Linked DNA regions of Homo sapiens. The protein of the gene in region 4 interacts with the protein of the main gene of each other region in a pairwise test. Each region holds a gene or a part of one and is shown on either strand. Other genes may lie near its edges.

What was found.
Region 1: the proteins of AGTR1 (region 4) and PPP1R3F interact in a two-hybrid assay, tested with the Homo sapiens proteins (one large-scale study listed by BioGRID and IntAct).
Region 2: the proteins of AGTR1 (region 4) and DNAJC8 interact in a two-hybrid assay, tested with the Homo sapiens proteins (one large-scale study listed by BioGRID and IntAct).
Region 3: the proteins of AGTR1 (region 4) and FAM13B interact in a two-hybrid assay, tested with the Homo sapiens proteins (one large-scale study listed by BioGRID and IntAct).
Region 5: the proteins of AGTR1 (region 4) and ADD3 interact in a two-hybrid assay, tested with the Homo sapiens proteins (one large-scale study listed by BioGRID and IntAct).
Region 6: the proteins of AGTR1 (region 4) and ATP13A1 interact in a two-hybrid assay, tested with the Homo sapiens proteins (one large-scale study listed by BioGRID and IntAct).
Region 7: the proteins of AGTR1 (region 4) and NUP88 interact in a two-hybrid assay, tested with the Homo sapiens proteins (one large-scale study listed by BioGRID and IntAct).

The regions. Positions count from the first base shown.
Region 1 is NC_000023.11:49,276,293-49,279,792, reverse strand, and holds part of PPP1R3F (protein phosphatase 1 regulatory subunit 3F), read right to left. Parts: exon of another isoform or gene 2,399-3,500; coding exon of another isoform or gene 2,265-2,398; intron 1-2,264.
Region 2 is NC_000001.11:28,202,030-28,205,529, forward strand, and holds part of DNAJC8 (dnaJ homolog subfamily C member 8), read right to left. Parts: intron 3,321-3,500; coding exon 3,229-3,320; intron 1,794-3,228; coding exon 1,718-1,793; intron 1-1,717. UniProt on the Homo sapiens protein: Suppresses polyglutamine (polyQ) aggregation of ATXN3 in neuronal cells.
Region 3 is NC_000005.10:138,030,280-138,034,281, forward strand, and holds the start of FAM13B (protein FAM13B), read right to left. Parts: upstream 2,801-4,002; 5' UTR 2,503-2,800; exon of another isoform or gene 2,495-2,502; intron 2,445-2,494; exon of another isoform or gene 2,051-2,444; intron 1-2,050.
Region 4 is NC_000003.12:148,704,403-148,707,902, reverse strand, and holds part of AGTR1 (type-1 angiotensin II receptor), read right to left. Parts: intron 1-3,500. UniProt on the Homo sapiens protein: Receptor for angiotensin II, a vasoconstricting peptide, which acts as a key regulator of blood pressure and sodium retention by the kidney.
Region 5 is NC_000010.11:110,126,484-110,129,983, reverse strand, and holds part of ADD3 (gamma-adducin), read right to left. Parts: coding exon 3,481-3,500; intron 1-3,480. UniProt on the Homo sapiens protein: Membrane-cytoskeleton-associated protein that promotes the assembly of the spectrin-actin network. Plays a role in actin filament capping. Binds to calmodulin.
Region 6 is NC_000019.10:19,650,177-19,653,676, forward strand, and holds part of ATP13A1 (endoplasmic reticulum transmembrane helix translocase), read right to left. Parts: intron 2,545-3,500; coding exon 2,419-2,544; intron 1,622-2,418; coding exon 1,513-1,621; intron 1-1,512. UniProt on the Homo sapiens protein: Endoplasmic reticulum translocase required to remove mitochondrial transmembrane proteins mistargeted to the endoplasmic reticulum.
Region 7 is NC_000017.11:5,384,333-5,386,497, forward strand, and holds the end of NUP88 (nuclear pore complex protein Nup88), read right to left. Parts: intron 2,009-2,165; exon of another isoform or gene 1,938-2,008; coding exon 1,874-1,937; 3' UTR 501-1,873; downstream 1-500. UniProt on the Homo sapiens protein: Component of nuclear pore complex.

The DNA.
Region 1 (3,500 bases), on a different chromosome or scaffold from region 4:
ATTGACTAAAACCTGAGAGGAGCTGGGGCGAATGCCCACACCTTTTTCTTCCTAAGAGGCAATGTGACATTCTTGATACTTCTGACAATGGTTGAAAAATTTTTTTTTTTGAGATGGAGTCTCGTTCTGTCGCCAGGCTGGAGTGCAATAGCATGATCTCGGCTCACTGCAACCTCTGCCTCCCAGGTTCAAGTGATTCTCCTGCCTCAGCCTCTCAAGTATCAGGGATTACAGGTACCCACCATCACAGCCAGCTAATTTTTGTATTTTTAATAGAGACGGGGTTTCGCCATGTTGGCCAGGCTGGTCTCAAACTCCTGACCTCAGGTGATCCACCCTCCTCGGCCTCCCAATGTGCTGGGGTTACAGGCATGAGCCACCGTGCCCGGCCTGGTTGAAACTTTTTGAAAACCCATAACCAATTACCTTCACAGAAACGAGTATCACCATCTGACCCATACATAGTACCTACTATGGCATTACACACTGTTCTAAGTGCTTCACATTTTTTTAAAGAAGTTTTTGGGGTTTTTTGGTTTTTGTTTTTGTTTTTTTGTATTTTGTTTTTAGAGATGGGGTCTTCCTACGTTGACCAGGCTGGTCGTGAACTCCTGGACTCAAGCGATCCTCCCATCTCAGCCTCCCGAAGTCCTAGTACTACAGGCATGAGCCACGGTGCCTGGGCAACATGTGTTAATTCAATCCTCACAATCACCCTATGAGACAGGTACTTGTAATCCTCTGAAGCAGGCAGTACTATTGTCTCCATTTTACAGAGGATAAAACAGAGGCTGAGTAAATGGCTCAAGGTCATACACTTCACATCACAACCCAGGCCTTTTGGCTCTTACCCAGTCAGCTGCTGCTTCTTGGATGAGGGAGACTGGGGTCTTACCCAACCCATCTCCATCCTTTCTAGAAGTAGATAGAGGGAGGCATCAATACTAGACAAGATCCCTCCCTCCTCCTTCATGCAGGCTTTTCTTTGGACCTGCCTTTGCCCACATATTCATTCCCCATTTCCCTACCTCCATGGGCCTGGGACATGCGTGGCTAGGAGGCCACTAGACACAGAATGGCTGCAAGAACTGCTTTCTATAAACACCCTCGGGGAGAACATTTGAACCATATATACGGATCTAGAGTCTAGAAGGGACCGTCTGTCTTTCTCTACTGTCTAGGACTCACAAATCCCACCAGAGGTACTTGAATCAGAATACTACAGGGCCTAGGGTGGGTGACTCTGGGAGCCCAGCTGCCACCTCCCACACATCACAGATGAGAAAGAGAGATTCAGAGCAAACCAGCTTGGTCTCACACCAATCCCCTCCGTGGTCCTAAAATCCAGGTCTTTGGACTTTTGTTTCAACACAATTTCTGCCAGGCTGCACTAACTTACTTCTTTTTGTTACCATAGTCCTTCATGACAGAAAACATCCTCCTCCTAGGATCTTCTAAACCAAGCCTCTTCAAGAAGGCCCACAGACAGACAGAAAGCCAGCCCTCCCACCTGTGCGCAGTAGCAGGCAAGCCTTCTCCTCCATCTGGCCTAGTCCGGACATATATTACAAACAGGCTTCTAAAAGCCACTGCAGTCATAGATGTGAGACAGAAAAAGGAGAACACTCAGGAATCAGCTAGCCAGCAGGTAAAGGACTCCACAATTCAGTTGGAGGAAGGAGAAAGAAAAACAAATACACAATCAATCCTTCAGCCCCCAGAGCACCCTTTCCATGGCTGAGGAGGGCGAGAACATCCAAAAAGCAGGTCACGCCATTGAGCCAATCCCAAGATCCACAACATCGACAGAAGCAAACAAGTCGTTCTCCAAAGTCAGATATGAAAGCAGAAAGCACAAGCATGTATTGTTCACCTCCTCCACCATGGGCCCCTCTCATTGACACACCAAGGCATTTGAAAACCTTCACATCTATCCTTCAAAACAACACCCTTCCTTTTTACAAATGCAAAAACTAAAACTCAAGGAACTGCATCTCTACACTCACTGACTACACAACCACGCTGGTAACAAACACTCCAGGAGGGCTCCACTTTGAAGAGAGTTTGAAATTGTGGGCTTAAAAAGAAACAAGTTATCTTTGAACCGTCTTTCACAGTAAAAACTCAAGGGCAGCTATGACTTCAATCAACATGAGGATAGTAAGAGAAATCAAGTACAAATGTATACTGACTCACTGATCGGTAACAGAGAAGAGGGGTTCTTAGAAAAATGGGGAGGGAGAAGATTAAGAACAAAACTGTACCTGCAGTATGCCTGCTCGTTTTCAAGAAGGAAACCTGTTCTTTTGGCACCAGCCCCACAAGTACCACGTGGCATCCCCTCAAGGGCAGTGAGCCATAGGGGCCAGGGCACACAGATCTGGAAAATCTTGGACATGCATCATTTGGGTGCTAGTGAGCACTAGTCAAGCTGGTGTCGACTAAAAGGGGCCATCTCAGGCCTGCACGCCAGTCTCCTGGGCGTGCAAATTCCTCCGGCCATCAGGAAACACAATGGCTGCCAAGCTGATAGGCCCCGAGGAGACCAGAGGGTGAGGATTTGGAAAGAGGTGGTGTTGGCCCCGGCCTAGGCCAGCCAAGAAAGCCAAGAAAGGTGATTCGCCAGTCACAGAGTAAGCGAGCGGGTGAGGGCTGACAAGCCCTGTGGAGAAAAGCAAAGCAGACTTTCAGAGCAGTCACAGACTGCCATTGCCACCACCACCCGAGTCCTCTGGAGCACCCCCAGCATTCATGTTTTCAAAGAATTTTGCCAGCCCAAAGTGGGTCAGGCACTGAAACCCAAAGGGAAACTCAGCAGACCCCGGCTCCCATGTAGTCAACCTGAAGATAACGCTGACTTTCCGGGGGGATGAGTGGCTTCAGAAACCTGCCCCACGATACTCAGAATTGCAGTTACCCTGAGCCATCTGCTTTCTGAAAAGAACAGGGTTTGAAGGTGGCTGTGAAAGCCACCAAGTTATGTGGGGCACTGCTTTGCCTTCCCCAACAAGTGTGTCAGCCTCAACTCTGGGACTTGCGGGTGATCCAGTGGGGTAGAGGGAGAGCAGTTTCTCGTGCCATGAGCTTCTTCAACAGCCATGACTTCATTCTTTGGCCACGACCCATAGTAAGAAATCCATTCTACATCATAACCCAGCACACCCACACGTGTAAACAGACATATAAATAACTGAAAAATGGTTGTTCTTCGAGTGAAACAATACTTACCTTTACTGCATGTGGTGATACACTGGCATTTCTTATGCTATTTCCTTTTTCTTTTTAATGCTTGTTGAAACCCAGTAAATTGATTTCACAACTCAATAAAGGGTTAGGATATGCAATTTTGAACAATTCCAGCTCTGCCACCTATCAGCTGTGTGACCTGGGGCAAGTTACTTAACCTCTCTGTGCCTCAGTTACCTCATCTCTAAGGAGGGGATAATAATACCTACATCAGTGAGTTGTTCAGCAGATCAAAGAAATATTTGAAAAGTACC
Region 2 (3,500 bases), on a different chromosome or scaffold from region 4:
CAGTGAGCCAAGATCACGCCATCGCACTCCAGCCTGAGCAACAAGGGCAAAACTCCGTCTCAAAAAAAAAGTAGAATAGAGCTTTCTTCCCACTCCCAAGGGCCCAAGAAAGTGTCATAGCACCCCTAGAACGCAGGATGAGCTGCAGGTTGCAAGAGGAGGACGAAATCAGTAATAATCATCACAACACTGAGGCCCCATTTGTTGGGGACCTCGAGGCTAGACGTTTAACATGGTTTTTTTTGTTGTCATTGTTGTTGTCTTTTGTGAGATGCAGTCTCGCTCTGTTGCCCAGGCTGGAGTGCAGTGGTGCGATCTCGGCTCACTACAACCTCTGCCTCCCGGGTTCACATCATTCTCCTGCCTCAGCCTCCTGAATAGCTGGGACTAAAGGGGCCCGCCACCACGCCCGGCTAATTTTTTGTATTTTTAGTAGAGACGGGGTTTCACCGTGTTAGCCAGGATGGTTTCGATCTCCTGACCTCATGATCCGCCTGCCGTGGCCTCCCAAAGTGCTGGGATTACAGGCATGAGCCACCTCACCCGGCCTTTTTTTTTCTTTTTTTTTTTTTTTTTGAGACGGCTCTGTCACCCAGGCTGGAGTGCAGTGGCACAATCTTGGCTCACTGCAAGCTCCACCTCCTGGGTTCACACCGTTCTCCTGCCTCAGCCTCCTGAGTAGCTGAGACTACAGGTGCCAGCCACCACACCTGGCTAATTTTTTGTATTTTTTTAGTAGAGACAGGGTTTCACCATGTTAGCCAGGATGGTCTCAATCTCCTGACCTCATGATCTGCCCGCCTTGGCCTCCCAAAGTGCTGGGATTACAGGCTTGAGCCACCACGCCCGGCCAGCATATGGTATTTCTAATTGTCACCAAAAGCCGACTATGGTGTGTACTGCTACCAGTGCTTCACAAATAACACTGAGGCTCAAAAAGGTTAAATGATTTTCTAAAAGCCATACAGCTAGCTAGCAGTACAGCTACTCTTTCCACTGCACCTTTCTGCTGCCCCCCAAAACTTGGATGGCTGCTCCAAAGCCAGTACAATGCCTAGCGAGTTGTGTAGGGGTGGCCACTAGGACCTCTACCTCATTATCATTTTTTCTCTTTCCATACATGAAGTGCAACAGAAACAAAGTCATCAACTCTGATTAGCCAGCCCCTAACCATGAGTCCTAAACCCTATAGAAGAAAAGACCGAATGTTGCCACAATCCTTCTGTCCAACCACCTGAAGCATATAACCAGGGTGTCAAAGAAGAGTCAAGTTCAAAGGTTCTAACTCTCTCTGCAGGTAGGACACTGTGGGCACAAGAACTTCAGCATCTACTAACAGATCTCTAAGCAGCACAATACTCTATGCTTACCCCCTAAATTAAAAGTGCAATCCATTTTTCTTGAGCCCACTGGGCAGCTGTGCCTACTACAATCTAAAAAACCATTCAGGGTGAAACTGTTAGTGTGCTGTAAAAAGAAATTAAACAATAATTTTTAAAAATAAATTTTAAAAAAGCCATTCAGGGATCCTCATCGTCCTTGCCAAGGCTACAGAGCTTACAGGAGGCTGAGGCAGGCCCAGCCTCATTCTTCACCTCTCCCACTCTTCCCCACATATCCCACTCCCCTCTGACTGCCCCACTCAGTCCTGGGAGCGCCACAGGAACCAAGCTGCCTTATTCTGGAATTAGAATCCCTGGCCACCTTGGAAATTTACCTCAAAGTTTTTCTGCCACTCTCTTTCCCGTTTGGCTTTTTCTTGAGCTTCAATCTCTTCTTCCCTTTGTCGTTTCCTAGGAGGAAAACCAGATCATAGTATTTATATGATACTTACAGACTGAATTAACCATACAAGGTGGCATCTCCCCACAGAAGCAAGCATATATAGTAAATCAATTCCCTAGAAGTCTACAAAGATGGCTGTCTGGAAAGGGCTCATAGCATTTTCATGAATGTCTCATTCTAAAACACGCAGATCAGACTTGGGCATGGCTGTGGGGAAAGACATAAATATCCTTGTTACACAGATAAAGTAACTAAAGCCCAGCCAAGAGCAATCTGAGGTTTTGGGCTCTTTCAGTGACAAAGCTATGTCGAGAACACAGGCCACCTTATTTCAGCAGAATGACCATTATAAAGCCAAAGTTCTTAAGATCTCTGGACAAAACCCTATCCGAAAACAAAGATATTTCACACAACCTCAACTAGCAAATTTTAGTTACTGGTACCTACCAAGCAACAATATAAAATACATACAGAAACAAAACTCGGCCGGATGTAGCGGCTCATGCCTGTAACGCCAGCACTTTGGGAGGCTGGGGCAGGTGGATCATGTGAGGTCAGGAGTTCGAGACCAGCCTGACCAACATGGTGAAACCCCGTCTCTACTAAAAATGCAAAAATTAGCCAGGCAGGAGAATCACCTGAACCTGGGGAGGTGGAGGTTGCAGTGAGCCAAGATCATGCCATTGCACTCCAGCCTGGGCAACAAAAGCGAAATTCTAACATTTCTGATGTTCAAGAGAAATCATATTTTAGAACATTAAACATTTTGTTACTGATGACACTACAGTACTATACACTCACCAAAGCTGTAGCCACTAGCCCCACAAAAGGTTCTGGCTTCAGTAACAATGGCCTTAATAACTGCTTATTTCACTCCAGGACATCAGGAAGAACACACACAAGGCTCTTGATTATAAATAAACTCCCTGGCAGCATGCAGTGGCTCATGCCTGTAATCCTAACACTTTGGGAGGGCAAGGCAGGCAGATCACGAGGTCAGGAGATCGAGACCATCCTGGCCAACATGGTGAAACCCTGTCTCTACTAAAATACAAAAAATTAGCCGGGCATGGTGGTGTACACCTGTAGTCCCAGCTACTCAGGAGGCTGAGGCAGGGGAACTGCTAGAACCTGGGAGGTGGAGGTTGCAGTGAGCCAAGATCGCACCACTGCATTCCAGCCTGGCTACAGAGCAAGACTGTGTCTCAAAAAAATAAATAAAAAATACACTCCCTAAGGACAGACCTATTCAATAATTCTCAAAAGTCAAAGAAAAAAACTACTTACCCTGGTGATTCAAAAGCTTGACTGTTTTTAGGTAACTATTTTTATAGTCTCTTAAATGGTATACTATATAATTCCCTCATTAGGAAAATCACCAAAGACCAATGTTAGTTAATCTAGGTATTTAAATATGGTTTAAATGAATATACTGATATGTACCTTTCATGCATCTCTTTGGCTTCTCTCTCTTTCCTTTTAATTTCCAGCTCTGCAAAGAGTTTCATTGTCTGTTTATATACAGCTTGTTTGAACTACAGGAAAATCAAGAACAAAAGAAAATCAGAGTAAATATTTTTACCAGCAACTTGAACCATGTACTTTCACCTGGAGTCCAAGATAAAGCAGATTAAAACCTGGCACAGGCTGTGCACCGTGGCTCACATCTGTAATTCCAACACTTTGGAAGGCCAAAGGCAGGAGAATCGTTTGAG
Region 3 (4,002 bases), on a different chromosome or scaffold from region 4:
TCTGTCCCCCAGGCTGGAATGCAATGGCATCATCACAGCTCACTGCAGCCTCAAACTCCTGGGCTCAAGCAATCCTCCCACCTCAGCTCCCTGAGCAGCTGGGACAACAGGAGCATGCCACCATGCCTGGCTTTTTTTTTTTTTTTTTCTGTAAAGAGAGTCTCCCTATGTTGCCCAGGCTGGCCTCAAACTCCTAAGCTCAACTGATCCTCCAGCCTTAGCCTCCCAAAGTGCTGGGATTACAGGCGTGAGCCTGGCTTACCACAAGTTTTATTACATATTCATTTTGTGTTTGTTTAATGTCTGTTTCTACCAACAGAGTATAAGCTCTCCAAAGTCCACCAGTGGGTTTTTAAAAAAATACATTTATTAAGGTATAATTTACACACTAAAATTTGCACTTCAGCCTGGGCAACAAGAATGAAACTCCGTCCCCCCCCCCCAAAAAAAAAAATTGAACGTAAGGCTGGGCAAGGTGGCAAGGTGGCTCACACCTGTAATCCCAGCACTTTGGGAGGCAGAAGCAGGCAGATCATCTGAGGTCAGGAGTTTGAGACCAGCCTGGGCAACATGGCAAAACCCCGTCTTACAAAAAATACAAAAATTAGTCAGGCGCAGTGGCAAGCACCGGTAGTCCTAGCTACTCGGGAGGCTAAGTCAGAAGAATCGTTAGAACCTGGGAGGCAGAGGTTGCAGTCAGCCGAGATTGCACCACTGCACTCCAGCCTGGGCGACAGTGATGCCCTGTCTCAAAAAAAAAAACAAAACAGTAATTTACACTATTATAGTCCCCAAATTTAAAATTTGAATACGATGATGGAGGAGCTATGCAGCGATGGATTGAGGTTATTCATAACTGATTATAAAAGCAGTTATTTTATTGGTGGGGAAACACTGACAAGTCAACAGATTCATTTCAGCCATTTTCTCTCCTAAAACAATGACATTCTAATAAAAAAAACTAACATTTACACCACCCAATGAATTATGCCACTGCAATATGCCCTTCTACATTTTCCAAGAACTTAAGCTGTGTCACACACGTGTCTAAATTAGTAATAAAATTAAACTGGAGAAACTATTACTCCAATTTTAAAAGCAGCACGGATTAAAAAAGTAAGAAGGGGGCAAGGCACGGTGACTCACGCCTGTAATCCCAGAACTCTGGGAGGCTGAGGCAGGCGGATCACTTGAGGTCAGTTCAAGACCAGCCTGGCCAACTTAGTGAAATCTGATCTCTACCAAAAATACAAAAATTAGTCAGGCGTGGTGGCGGGCGCCTGTAGTCCCAGCTACTCAGGAGGCTGAGGCAGGAGAATCGCTTGAATCCGGGAGGAGGAGGTTGCAGTGAACCGAGATCGCTCCACTGCACTCCAGCCTGTACGACAGAGCGAAACTGTCTCAAGGAAAAAAAAAAAAAAGTAAGAAGGCGCTCCCAATGGATATACAAATAATTATCAGTCCATTCAATTCCATCAACAAGCACTTAGTAAATGCACAGTACCTGTGAGAAAACCAGGCCAACAAGCATTTCAAGGTTACCAAAAAAGGAAGGTTGAAAATAGCCTCACACTAACCCAGCTCTAAAAAGACAAATAATTCAAAACCACCCTTTAATGTCTGTCTCTCTAAACAGGTGCACCCCAGTTAATGTTAATAGTCTGCATTACTACTGGTAATGATTCTGGCTACCATTTTAGATTATCAGATCCTTCAAAGTAAATGCCCAACTTTTTTCACTGATTAGAAGGCGAAACGGGGAACCAAATGAAATAATCCACCGTCTTTCTAAAAGTCAGTTTGATTTTAACTGATTACAAACAAAAAGGGCTTAACAGTTTCCCACTGCGCAAATGTGCCAACCGATTCCTACAACCTCATCTAGGAAACCAGGCGTGCCACGCGAACCCTAATGCTATACAAAGTGTCCCCCTCCAGCCTGGCCTATGCAGAGCGCATTCTAGACAAGGCCCCAGTGCACCAACAGCCCAATTTTGGCTATATTCTCTGAGCGATTTAAGGAAGTCCGCAACCACTCATCTCACGTGACCTTAAAAAGGGGCGCAGTTGAGCCCAGAATAAAACACACTCCTTTTTCTTCTACATCAACTTCACTGCCCAGCATGAAGGAAGTGGGCGGGGAAGAGGCGCAGCGCCAGCGGGCAGGAGAGGTCAGCAAAGAAACGTGGGGTGTCGCGCCATCTACTCTGGAGGGGCTGGAGGTGAGGGGCACGCCCGCTCAACTGCACTGCAGCCGCTGCAAATCCAAGGCTGCCACACCCCCCGGCAGCCAGGGACACGGCTTCATCTTCCTCTTTCTCCAGCGGAAAGGGGGCCCTCTCCACGGAACGCCCCACCTGCTAGAGTCCTCCACATCCCGAAACGCAACGCCCGAGAGCAGGCGCGGGTGGCAGGCGGCGCTGGGGGGCAACAGGAGGGGAAGGGCCGCGGCGACCTGCAACCCGCGCATGCGCAGATCCGGGTACCCGCCCGTTTACCTACCGTTGGAACCGCGATGCCCCGTTCCCTGGCCGCGGCCGCTTCTCCAGGACCCGCGGCGACGGCAAGAGGGCGAGAACTGAGGCCCCAAGTGGCTCCGCGGCCGAGAAGCCTCTTCCTGGGGCGGCCGCTGACGGGAGGTTAAAGCTACGGCTGTGGCGCGGGGCCAGCCCGGTAAGCGACCCCCCGGATACCCCCGGCGGTGGTGGCGACGCAGACGCGGAACAGGGGGAGAGAGTGGCGACAGAGGCGGCGGCTGAGGTGCAGAGCCTCCCTAACGGCGAGCGGGAGGAGAGCGGCTGGCGGGCGGAGGCCGGGCCGGACGTGACGTGCGTGGGAGGGGGCGGGGCAGGCCGCTGGTGGGGGCGGGGCGGCGAGGGTCCCCACCCCCACAGCATTCCGGGCAGCGGCCCTGTGTCCTGCAAGCTTGAGGACCGCGGTTCCTCTCCCACCAATTGGGGTCCTGAATTAGGGTGCGAGCAGCCAGGCGCCATCCCGGGGCGGGTTGTGGGGTCCTCGGTATGGGGAGGTTGGGAAACAGAGAGGACACTGGGGAGAGGAAAGATAAAGGGAAAATCCGGAACACAGAGATCGCTTCTGGTCTCTGCGGAGGAAGCCAGGCCCCCAGGGCGCCCATATCCAGGTGAGGAGCACAGAGACCTGAACCGAAAACCGCTGGGGGAGACCTAAGCGGTGACTTCGGTTCCCATTCCCAGAGATGTGAGTTAGATCCGGGACCACGGGGCTGCACCTGCGTCCTGCCCGCCCCCACCCTACCCCTTCACCTCAGGACCTGACCTAGACTCCAGAGAGAACAGTAAGGCTTCGGTGCCTTAGTCTGGGACTGTGGAAGTCGATAGGCTGCGGGCTTACAGGGAGCTTCGTATACTAAAATCAGCCAGCTGCGGAGGCAGAGCTGAAAGGAGGCAGAAAGAATGAGCTCTCTGAACTTGCATGGCTACCCAGACCATCCCTACAACTCCCTTGAACTCACAAGGGTATGAATATTCAGCCAATCTCTTCTTTGTTATAGTCTGTTAAGGGCTTTGAGATCTTCCATTTGGACTCCTTGACAGCCGGTAGATCAACACCTGCACAAAAAATAGCAGCCACCACAATTCAGTTGTCCCTTACCTACCTGAGCTGGAAGTTAGTAACTTGGAAAATGTAAAACAAGAACCCTCATAGAACTTGGGACAAGATTTGAAAAAAATAAAGTTACCCTATGAAATGATCTGTAAATGGGCTACAGAGGCCACAGTGTCTCCCACATTTCATCAGAGAGAGTAAACCATGTGTAACCTAAGTGTCACATACCCAGTTAATGCTGTCATAACCGAAGGGTGGGGTCCACAAAGAGTCTAAAACCAGAAGAATCTGAATAAGAATGTTCTATGAGGCTCCCAGGAACTCTGTCCAGGAACGAGGCAACTGATTCTAATGACCAGAACCAACACTTACTCTCAGGGCAGTTAAATCTTAATTCAGATTCACTCACTCATT
Region 4 (3,500 bases):
TCAGGTTTTTATTTTTTAATTTACAGAGTAAGCTTCCACACTGCATCTTAAGAGTGTTTTTGAAGGGAGTGAAACCATCTGGTTCACATCAAGAACATATTTTTCCTTATATAGAGCTAGACTGCATTAAGTGGTGGGCACAGGATCTCATCATCTTCCTGCCTGTGGTCAACATCTTCCCCAATGCCCTTGTAGATATACATTAGGCAAAGAGAAAAAGAACGTTTTAGGGTAAAATAGTGCAGTCTCATTCCTAGCCATTTCTTTCTATAGACATGTAAGAAATGTCTATAAATGTAAGAATATGAAAATAGATTGGATTTTTACTTGTGAATCTACAGCTAAACTTAAATGATTCTATTACTTAGTATAAAGCTTATGCACATTTTATTGTACCATAATTTAAAAAATACCTTTTTAAAAGATTACCTTTTCTGTTTTTCTTTTTCCCAGAAGTAATGCTAACGCGTCGTATAAATGTCAAGTTACAGAAGGATGTAAAATAAAAGTAAACATATCCTTACCCTCTATTACTTTTCTCTGCATTTACTTCCCAGAGGTACTACTAATAGTTACCTATGTCTCCTTCTAGGACTTGTATACACATGCATATAAATATGTATATTCATAAAAAATGCATACACATGCATATAAATATGTATATCTATAGTTTTTTCTTTTTGTACATCATAGTATTTTCTTCTTTGTTTCATTTATTTTACTTATGATGGCTAGCAGATTTCCTACATCAGCATATATAAATCTACCTCATTCATTTTGATGGCTGTACAATATTTCATTCATTGTACTCACACATAGTTTATTTAACCAGTCTGCTATTAATGAGCCTTAATCTTTTTTTTCAGTTTTCCTTTTGGCTGCTACAAAAATGTCCCAATAATAATATTTACATATATGCACTTTTGTACTTATATGAATGTATCTATATAATAAATTCTAACAGACTGTTGAACCAAATTGTTTGTATATGCTAAGTTTTTGATAGATATTCATAAAATGTCCTCCGTTAAGGTTATACCAATTTATAATACCAAGAATCTGGGTTTTATCAAATCATTTTTTCTTTATCTGATAAGTAAAAGGTATATCTTTGTTTTGACTTGCATTTCGTTAATTATGAATGAGGTTGAACTTCTTTTCATTTTCTTATTGTTTCCATAGTAATTCTTCTACGAGTTTTCTCAGCCATGGCTTTTGCTCATGTTTCAATTAGGTTGTTTATTGTTTCTCACATTAAAGAGCTCATGTTATGTTAAGGAAACTTAAATTTTACATGTAATGGCTGGCAAATAGCTTTCCCAGGTTTCTTGTTTAGATGATAACTTTGTTTATGGTACTTTTTACTGTATAAGCATTTATTTTTATGTAGTCAAATTCATCAGTATTTTTAATTATATATAGGAGGATTTTTTAAATAAGAAATTTATTTAAAGTTGAAGAGTTATTCAAGAAGATTGTATATAGGTTAATTTTTAAACCAACTTTAGCATACCAAGTTTAGCATTTAGGCATACCAACTTTAGCACTGTTATACAGAATAATGTTAGCATTGGAAGGATCTATTAACAAAAGAAAGTTCCCATAAAATGATTTCTTCTATAAAATATCATGACCGTGTGAATTCTGTGGACTCTTTGTGAGACACTAGTGTACCACAGGAAAAAAAAATGACAGAAAGGGTCAGATTTATAGTACCATTCTCCAGAGAGTTAATAGTAGTTGTCTAGTACCTAAAATCTAGAGTGAATTATAAATAAAGTAATAGAAATTCCAAGACAAATAGAAAGTAAAAAATATAAAATCAATAGAGATCCATTATAGAAAATTTTGTAGGTACATACAAAAGAAAGAAAGAAAAAAAATCATCCTCAAAAGCTCTTAAGATTTGTTGTATATTGTTCCTAATTTTTCTTATTGGCTCCACAGATATGCATGCATTTAAAAAACATGTAAGTGATTTTACTAACAAATCAATCCTAACATAATTAAATGAATTTCATTAAGATGCCAATAACCCAAGACCTTAATGGCACCTTGACAAGCATCTACCAGGTATACACATACATGGGATCACACTTACGATTCATATGTTATACAGTGATTTTTTCACTTACTACTATCTTTACTTGCCACTAAATATTTTAAAATATATAAATTATATATTACATTTTATATTTATACAAAATATATAACAACTGTAATGTTCTATCATATGGCTTAAGTTAATGGAAATTAAAAGGAATAGGAATAACTGTGTGTTCTCTCAAAAATCCACTCTGGTAACTCAGTAGATAATAGACCAGGACATACTCAAGAAATCATTACCCAAGAATCACATCTTTTTCATTCATGATAAAGTGGCAGCAATTAACTGTGTAACTGAGGGCTGGGAGACATCATGATAAAATGTGTTTTATATGAAGTGACATCATTTGAATGGGAGAGTTAGATTATTAAAGCTGGGTTAATGGAAAATTCTCATTCTAAGGGCAGGAGCATTTGAATTGATGGCAAGAAGAATTTGAGTCAAAAAGTAAAGTATATGTGTTGATGAAATTGTAAGTGTGAAGGAAAATATATGTGCTGATAAAGTTGTTAAGTATATGAAATTTACTAGAAAAAAATGCTATGCTACGAGAATTTTTCCAACTGTTAAAAAGAAAAAAATGCTATGCTATGAGATTTTTTCCAACTGTTAAAAAGAAAACCTTGTGCAGATTGCATTCAGCCACAGCCACAAATATTGGGGCTTAGTGAAACCAGGGGACTCTTAGGGGCTATAGAGGGTGATCACTGGTACTTTATTTTTTATTAGTACTAAGAAACTCTGCCTGCTATGTGTAAGATATCTTTTGGGTATTTCTCCTTCTTTCAAACTTCCACTACTTGTCATGATGGCAGCCCTGGATTGATTTTGCCCTAACCCATAACTTACAAATTAGATGTTGTAATGTCAGTGCTACCTGAATATCTACAGTTCTAGATTCAAGGAGCTGGTGAAATTTTATCTCCTACAAATTTTCTCAATACCATTGAAAAAGTGGCTGCTCAGTCCTGTTGGCACAGGTTTCCCCTCAAACATGATCCCAGGGAACCCATACACACCTGTCTTTTGACCAACATCAATAAGCCCCTGTCAAAACAGGAGATATTCGGACAGATCCAACTGATGGCTGTCAGAGAATCTACCTGCACTGGGTGAAACAGCTCAGGGACTGAATCATTTGGGGAGTCACTGGCTTGAGCATTGACTGGTTAGTAACTATATTTTACTACATTTTTGTAAACCATGCTTGTAGTAAATAAGCATTTATATTAAAAGCTGAAAAAGTAATATGTAATTTGAGTTGGAATGCTGAACAGTCTATGTGTATGTAGAAAACAGAAAATAACTTGTCCAATCCAAGGGAGAATTTACTTTATAGCATGAGAGCACCAAAAAGTAAACAGAAAATTTTGGATTTTTATGGGAAAAAATA
Region 5 (3,500 bases), on a different chromosome or scaffold from region 4:
GTAGTTCTTTAAATCTGTTACGAAAATAAGCTTGTAGCTGTTTTCTCCAGGAAAGGAAATAATGAGAATTTCAGTTGCAGTTGGCATATGGAACCCATGTATTTATTTTTCATCCCTCCCAAAACCCCACTAAAATGATAGTAAAGGAATAGAAAAAAACAAAACAAAACACCCTTAAGGACAAAAGAATGTGAGATGAAACAACAAAGGATGAGAAATGTTAACATATTTTTGGAAGCTGGAATGCAAGTGGAACAGCAGGTAGCAGAGCTGAGAAAGTTGAAGCCTCAGTCCTGAAAAAAAGGATGCAAATGAGAAGCATGCTTATTTGCCCTGAAGAGGTCTGGTAAGGCCCATAAACTAGAGGCAATAGGTACCATAGAAGGTGGTGGTAAGGAAAAGGTGAAAATAGAGGAACATGTTCAAAGTCTGAATAGGAAACAGATTCCCAGGTTCCCTTCCCTATTCCACAGAGCCAAGCATTTCCCTCTCTCTCATCTCTGCAGAAGATCAGAGGCTTGAGAAAGAAAAACTAGGCTGGGCGCGGTGGCTCACACCTGTAATCCCAGCACTTTGGAAGGCCAAGGCGAGCAGATCACCTGAGGTCCAGAGTTCGAGACTAGCCTGACCAACATGGAGAAACCCTGCCTCTACTAAAAATACAAAATTAGCCGGGCATGGTGGTGCATGCCTGTAATCCCAGCTACTCAGGAGGCTGAGGCAGGAGAATGGCTTGAACCCGGGAGGCGGAGGTTGCCGTGAGCTGAGGTCACGCCATTGCGCTCCAGCCTGGGCAACAAGAACAAAACTCCGTCTCAAAAAAAAAAAAAAAAGAAAGAAAGAAAGAAAGAAAAACTAACTAGGGGACACAAAATACAGTTGCAGGCTCCTAGAATGATGGTTGGAAACTGGCAGGAGACTGGAGTTCTTTTCCAGATAAACTAAATAGTCCCAGATAAAAGAATTACAGAGAATAATGTTTGGGGATTCCCCAGAGAAACAACCTGGTCCACATCCAATCACCCTACAGTGAAGCCCACCAATCCCCGAGCTCTGTGTATACCCAGAGCTTCTGATATGCTTTAATGTCTCATTCTTCCATATAAACAGACATACGGAACAACTCAGAATAGACAAAGACAACAAAGGCAAATGAAGAAAATTTAAAATTGATACCCTTAGAGCAATAAGAGAAAGTGTAAAGATCAGGATGTTATTAAAAAGGAACATTCAGGGAATAAGAACTCTTATTAAAAATAAAAAAGTTGGCTGGGCGTGGTGGCTCACGCCTGTAATCCCAGCACTTTGGGAGGCCAAGGCGGGCAGATCACGAGGTCAGGAGATTGAAACCATCCTGGCTAACGCGGTGAAACCCTGTCTCTACTAAAAATACAAAAAAAATTAGTCGGGCACGGTGACAGGCGCCTGTAGTCCCAGCTACTTGGGAGGCTGAGGCAGAGAATGGCGTGCACCCAGGAAGGCGGAGCTTGCAGTGAGCCAAGATCGCGCCACTGCACTCTAGCCTGGGCAACAGTGCGAGACTCCATCTCAAAAAAAATAAATAAAATAAAATAAATTAAAAAAGTTAACATCAAAATAAAAAATTAAAAGGGTTAGAAAACATTCTCCCAGAAAGTAGGATACAAAGATAAAGAGATGGCAAGTAGGAGAGAAAAGAAAAAAATCAGAGGCTCAAAGAGGCCCAACATCCAAACTAACATAATATACTGACAGAAAAAGAAATGGGAAGAAAACACTCTTGAAGAAACACTTTTAAAAAACTTCCAGAACTGAAGGATATGACTCTGGAGATTGAAAAGGGTTACTAATTACTTAGAAAAAAGACTAAAAAGAGATCAGCACACAATCATAAAATTTCAGAACAGCAGGGATGCAGAAAGGGTCTAAAAGCAAAAAAAAAAAAAAAAAAAAAATCCTAAACAAAGGTTCAGGAATTCCAATGCCTTCCTACTTCAACAATAAAATAGGGAACAGAATGATGCTTTTCTTATTTCAGGGGAAAATTATTTCTAAACTATTCTATATCCATTATATGCACATTTGAAGATAGAATAAAGGCATTTCAGACTGTTACCACCTATGTATCCTTTTCTCGGAAAGCTATTAGAGGGTGCGTTCTACAGTAAAGGAGGAAATCAAGAAAGCAGAAGACACAAGATACAGGAAACGGAATACAATATAGATCAGCAGCACAGGAATCCTCCAGATGAACCTGTGCAGCTGGCCTGAGAGCAACCAATTTAGATTTGGATCAGAATGAAGGGGGGCTGGAACAGAGAGATTACCTGTTGACTTTCACCCTGTGGAAAATAATATTAGGACAGATTTTATGTTATTCTTATTTTTTGAGACGGAGTCTCGCTCTGTCACCAGGCTGGAGTACAGTGGCATGATCTTGGCTCACTGCAACCTCTGCCTCCCGGGTTCGAGTGATTCTCCTGCCTCAGCCTCCTGAGTAGCTGGGACTACAGGTGCACGCCACCACGCACAGCTAATTTTTGTATTTTCAGTAGAGATGGGGTTTCACCATGTTGGCCAGGATGGTCTTGATCTCTTGACCTCGTGATCTGCCCGCCTCGGCCTCCCAAAGTGCTGGGATTACAGGCGTGAGCCACTGCACCCAGCCGGGACTTTATAATTCTTTTAAAAAGTTCGGGAAGAACTAAGCCAATGTACCCCAAATAATAAGCCAATGAAAAAAAGGCAAGGTGAGAGTAGGGAGGGGTGACTTATGTAAGAAAGGAAATACTACCTGGCTTAGCAGCAAACATGTAGTAATATAAATAACGAAAGCTGATCTAACAGAAAAAAACAAAAAACAAAAAACAAAAACTGTGATGTATCCTTACTGGGAGAATGGGGAGAGGGAAAAAGGGAAGCACTGTATAAACAGGCTAAATCCCCATCTTTCAAAAATATTTCATTAATTCTAAGATGAACTTTTTCCATCTCTGAAATTGGGAACAATTATAATTGGCAGTGTTTTTTCTCTTTTAGTGACATATAAAACAATGGTACTTCTTATAACGGATAACACAGATTTGATGAAAAATAGTCAAGGTCTAAAACTGATAGACCAAGAAAAAGCAGAAGATGCTCTTTAGAAACATCAAAGGAGGACGAGGAGCAGTGGTTTATACCTGTAATCCCAATACTTCAGGAGGTCAAGGCTGGAGGATCACCTGAGATCAGGTGTTCACGACTATCCTGGGCAACAGAGTGAGACCTCATCTCAACTAACTAACCAGAAACACCAAAGTAAACATTAGAAGCAATGAAAAGAACAGAAAGTTGCTGCACCTGGAAACTGGGAATTGTGGGTGACATTTTAAATCTTGTGAGTTGACTTTTTAACTTGTGCTTATATTAACCTTAGTAAAAATAAATATTCATATTTAAAAATCAATGAAATTAATGTGGTAAATAAAAAACAAAGATCATACTACTTCATAAACTTACAGAAGGTGGCTTATCCACAA
Region 6 (3,500 bases), on a different chromosome or scaffold from region 4:
GCCAGATTAGAACCTGGGCAGTCTGACCCCAGCTAAGCCATGCCCCCACCTCATGCAAGGCCCCCTAACCTGAAACACACAGAAGGGGGCTATTGCGCTCTCCTTGGGAAACCCCACACCAGGCCCTCACCTCATTTATCCCTGCGCCCGTGGCCTCTCTGAAATCCTGTTTTCTCGGGGCTGGGCCCCCTCCCAACTCTGACAGGGCCCCTGAGTTCTCAACATCTTCTTGCTCCACTTCCCCTTTCTTGCTGGCTGGCCCTGGCTTGGATGCTGGGCGCTGAGGATGGCCAAGGGCGGCCCGCCAGCCCTCCTGGCACTGCCTGCTCACCCTGGACCATCTCAAGCTGAAGGGCAGCACACTTCCACCTGGCTTGTGCTGCAGCTGTTGCTAGACCAGCTTCGCTTGTCAATCAACAGTTCTGCTCATCCGCTCCATGCCACCTGCCCACAATCCCCAGGCCCTGGAAGACCCCGGTAGCTGGGGCTGGGACAGGGGGAGGCCTGCGACCAATAGAACAGAGGGAGGGCAGGGACCGAGTCCTCTGAGAGGTGGCCTGGAGGTTCCGGAAGCTGCTCTGGCCCAGACCTGTGAATGTTTGCTGCCAGCAGCCCTGTGGCAACACTGCTCCATGTGGTTCTTCTTAGGGCCCTGTCAACACTCATGCAGGTCCTGAACTGCGTGCGCCCACAGGGGCTTCACCTCTAGCTCTGGGGCAGGTATCTGGTAAGCCCCACACCTCTAGCTGGGAGGGGCTGGGTCTCTATGTCTGCCTCTTCATCAATCTGAATCCAGGGCATTGCTCAAAGAGGTCACTGGGGAGAGGTTGGAGCCTTGAGCTCTGGAATCAGGCTGTCTGGATTCCAATCCTTAGCCATGGATTGGAAGTGACCTGGGCAAGTGGGTTCACTTCTGAGCCTCTGTCCCTTCTCTACAAAGCAGGGCCCCGAGAGCTGACCCAGCCAGCTTCCTCCTCTGTGGTGTGGGGAAGGCAAGCCACCCCGTGTGGTGCAGGATGGGGTGGAGGGACCAACGCAGTAACACGCACGGAGCGCTCCGCCTGGGGTCTGGTCAGGCTGAGCACTGGGCAAACTGCCATCAACTGTGGCTGAGGATGCCAGCAGTCCCTGTGCTCGGGAAGGGAGCACTCGGTACATGGGCAGCTTGCCGGGCCAAAGAGGGTGTGAAATGAGGATGACACTGAGGATGGGGAGTAAGCGTGGTAGGAGCAGTATCTGCCCATGAGTGCACAGGAAACCCGAGCTGGCAGTCAGACTATCGCCTCATTATGGTAAATAAACACCTACATGCCGCACATCCTGGGACCTGCGACCCAGTGAACGCTCACATGCTGTCCGAGGTGCCCAGTGGGCCAGGGCTGTGATTAGTGGTGCCAGGCATTTGAAGACACTGTGCTGCTGAGGCCTGGTACACAGGTGGGCTGTTGCGATGGGAGCTGTTCTTGGACTCAGGGTCCCCCTTCCCCACTGTGGGCCAGGCTAGGGCCTCACCTTTCTCGGAGGGAGGCTGCAGGATCAGCGTGTGGGCCTTTTCAATGAAGTGCAGCTCCTGGGCCACGTGGCATGCAGTGAGCGGGTTGTCTCCCGTGATCATGACCACCTTGGGTAAAGAGGGGCAGAGGCTCAGCATGGCACCCTGGGGCCAAGCTCTAGGCCAGAGACAAGGCTGCCAAGTCTCCTTCTAAGGTAGGCCACAGTGGGAGATCCTGGGCCTCTAACCGAGATGCTGAATGGGCTTCCAAGGGCCACAACCCACCCCCACCCAGGTCATTTTACACAAATGACACGTGTATGTGCGTCCTTCTGAAGACACCCTTAGCTTGGATTTGCAATACAAATGAACAACCTGCCCCTGAGGTGGACCCTTTTGGCTTGGTAGCTGCCCATGGGGGTAATATTTCAGCAAAGAGGAGGATGGGACCATGACCTCTGGGCTTGGTGGGGACTAATCACATCACCCATGTGACCCAGAGCCATCATCCTCTGAGACGGCTCACTCACCCCTTACACCCTAAAAGACACCCTAAGTCCCAAAATAGAAAACACAAGCCACCAGAAGCCACCAGGACAGGCAGACAGTGCCCCCCACCCAACTCCCCAGCCTCAGCTTCCTTCTCTCCAGGACGGCGGTGGAACGGGGAAGTGGAGAGAAGTGCCCCCATCTTCCCATGATGCGGGGAGTGAAGGGAGTGGTCTGTGGAGGAGAGAGGAGCCAGCACAGGCGGGTCCCAGAGTGTCCTTGGGCCAGTGGCAATGTTAGCACCTGAGCTATGATCTTGCTCAGCTAAAACATGCAGCCTGTGAGACTTGGGTGCCCACCCCTACCACGAAGCTGTAATTGTCATCTCCTCGCCTCTATTTCCCATGCAGAGGGTGGAGCCGAGCACCGTCCCATACCCGGTGGGACGCATTCTGGATCTCCCGGATCACGGCCTTGGAGTCAGCCTTGAGCGGGCAGGAGACCACAATGAAGCCGACGAACTTGAGGCTGCACTCCAGGGCCTCCCGCTTGACCTCCCGGGCCTGCGGACAGACAGGGGCACCCTCACCATCTGTCCCTCCCTCTGCCCACACTCTGCATTTCCTGAGCTCTGACCATGCGCTGGGAGCCAAGGGGACAATGGAAGGCCCTGTTCCCGTAGTGGGCACATGCGAGGGTTGGGAGGGGAGAAATGCCAGGAGGGTACCAGGCACGCTTGAGGGGTGGGATCTGGCAGTGACTGGGGGGTCTGGGTCCCCCGAATGTGGCTCTATGTCCTGCTTGCGGACATGGGCACATCACAGAGTCCCTTGTGGCTCAGCTTCCAAGTCAATGAAGTAGGGACTCTCCCAATAATGTTGGAGTTTAGCCAGGAACTCTTACTCACTGGGGCTCCACCACATACCACAGACTGGGCACAGACCCCTGGCCTTAGGGAGCTCACACTGCACCAGGGGAGACGCATGATCAAGAAAGTCACAGAAATCGGAGTGCTGAGTGCCATGAGAGAGGAGGTGAGAATGGAATCCAGAGAGGGTGGAAAGGCCTCAGAAGTGGCCACTATGAAGGCGATGAGGACCTGTGTCACTGGGAAGGGGGCTCCAGGTGCAGGAACGGGGCAGAGCATGCAGGCTGTGAGCTGTGGCCTGGGCTCTGCACACAGTACTGCAACCTGAGGCTAAATTCTGGAAGGATCCGCAGCTGTAGGGTGCAAGCAGAAAGAACGAGAGCCCAGGAAGAAGCCAAGCGGCAGATGTGCCGGTGGTGGAGGCGGAGGGTGGGCTTTGTGGAGGATGGATGGGTGAGAGGGCTGAGGATGCCACCTAGCCCTGCCCAAGACCAGGGCAAAAGAGTAGAGCTAGGGACACACCAGGACTGGGGCAGGTAAGCCCTGCGTGTGCTCTGCGTGAGCCAGGACTGGGTGGGTCCCCACAGCAGTGGACAGACTGAGTGCCATTTGGAGTCTCCAAAGGTAGAAGCTGGAGGCGGGGCAAGGAGG
Region 7 (2,165 bases), on a different chromosome or scaffold from region 4:
AGTGCTACAGAAAGCACAAAGAATTGATTCATGTTCATCAATACCTGCTGAGAGTACTGTCCCAGGAATATCCAGTGGATGGATTCATCATCCAGGAGGTTCAAAAGTAAGATGGTTTTCAAATCATTTTTGAGACTGGTTGCATAACAGCAGGGTACCTGAAAGAGCCTTCTGGGAGTTAGTGAACTAGGTAGATTGTTTTGTTCACATAACGCCACCATCAACTTAAAGTGAATTGTCTTTGTTATAAATGAGGTCACTATGGACTTACCCTAAAGATCTTCTGTACTTCTGTCTTCCATAGGACAAATGATAAGTACTACATACCTCATCTCTTGGGTTATTATTGTAGTCTTGCATTCATGGTTATGAATTTAAAAATAAATACCAATTATGGAAATAGTACTAAAGGCTTGCCGCACATGAAACATTATTTTAATTGGTTTAAAGTCCCTTTATAAAGAGTGCTACATGGTTTAGATAAAGGAAACATATAACTATTGAGTTACAGGGGATTTTATTAATTATAAAATGCAATCAATTTAAATTACGTAGGTTTAAGACTAGTCCCTTGGATAAGCCCCAAGCGAATTTGTCTTCAGATTATTAAAATTAGTGCTGTAAATCAGGGTGGGCAATTCACAGCCTTTCTGAACTGACTGAACTAGAGCTTGCAGTGAAGTGTTCTGCTGAGACTGAGCACCTTACAGATATTTTTCTCCAGAAGATGGTGCTGGGTAATAAAATCATCACAATTAGGGAATGGTTAGTGGTCTCTACTGTGGCAAATGCCAACTGTTGGAATTCACTTTATTGTAGAAAAACCCAAACTGAGACTCTTAAGTTTTGTTTAGCAATGTGTTTCTGGTATGAAACAAACTACTGTGTCACTGTCCAGGTAGGAAACAATTCTTTCAACTGGGTTTTCAGCATAAATGGGAACTGATGTAGAAGGCAGGATTTAGCCCTTCTAGGCAAAAGAAAAGCTCAGTTGGGTTTCACGAGTGTTCCTGTGCTTATATTCAGTCTGTGCCTACATGTTCTCATGCATGTCTAACCTGATTTACCTCTTACCTGTAACCTACCTTATCATGTGGCTTTTAATTGACAGTCACTCAGCCATTTCTAAGCAGATATAGTAGTACCTTTCAGAACTCACATTGGCAAGTGTAAAAAGATGACTTAAGGTGAAGTGAGGACAAAATCACATTCTGCATACTAACCTATTTTTTTCTCCCTTTAAGGTGCTAAACTTGCACCTCATGTCCACTCAGTAACAAGTATTGGGACGTAGAGCACAGCCTCACTCAGCTCTGAAAGGTAATACAGCTTGTGAGGAAGTGAGCCAGCAGTGGCCTTTGCAATTGTGGATCTTGAGCTCTGCTCTCAGCAGATTTCAGGTGTAACCATTTGTTAACTGTACTGAAGGTGTGTCCTCAAGAAGAAAGTGTTCAAATTAAAAAAGCTGCTGCCAAGTACACTGTGTGGTCTTCTCCTTTGAATCCTAGGGTTCTATCCCTCTTCAGAGTCATGTTTCTGGTGCTGCTACTTTAAAACACAGCTCACAAGAATAACTAACTTGCTCAAATATGGAGAAAACTCAATAGGGTTCAGGGAGGTTCTGGCAGTGTGCAGTGTGAAATAATCCTGAGTCCTTGCTGAACACAACTGTAGGCTTGAGTTATAAAGCACATTCCAAATTTTAAATAAAAGCATTTACTCAATTATTATAAAACAACATATTTAAAAAGATGAACCACACCAAAGGTCATCAAAACACCTTTTTATAAATTAGATAATTCTACCTGTTTTACAATATGGGTTTAAGCCTTCAATGGTGTTCAGTTCAGGTGTGAGTCAGCTCCTGGTGGTGTCAGAAGTTTACATGATTGCGGATATCATTGATTTGCTTCACCATTTCCCTTATATGTTCACCCCTGTAAAATTGTAAAGTCACTCACTTTTGGAATTATAATAAACCATTTATATGGATTCTTAAGAATTTAAACTGGTAATGTTGAAACATCTAAGAACTGCTTTGCTAAAATTAACAGCTGAAGGTTTCAGGTGGATAGCAATAGTGTTCACTATTCATTTAAGGTGGCAAACGGTGCAAGTACTGGAAATATTTTTGAACATAATTACTGTAAAATACCTTTGGCCAC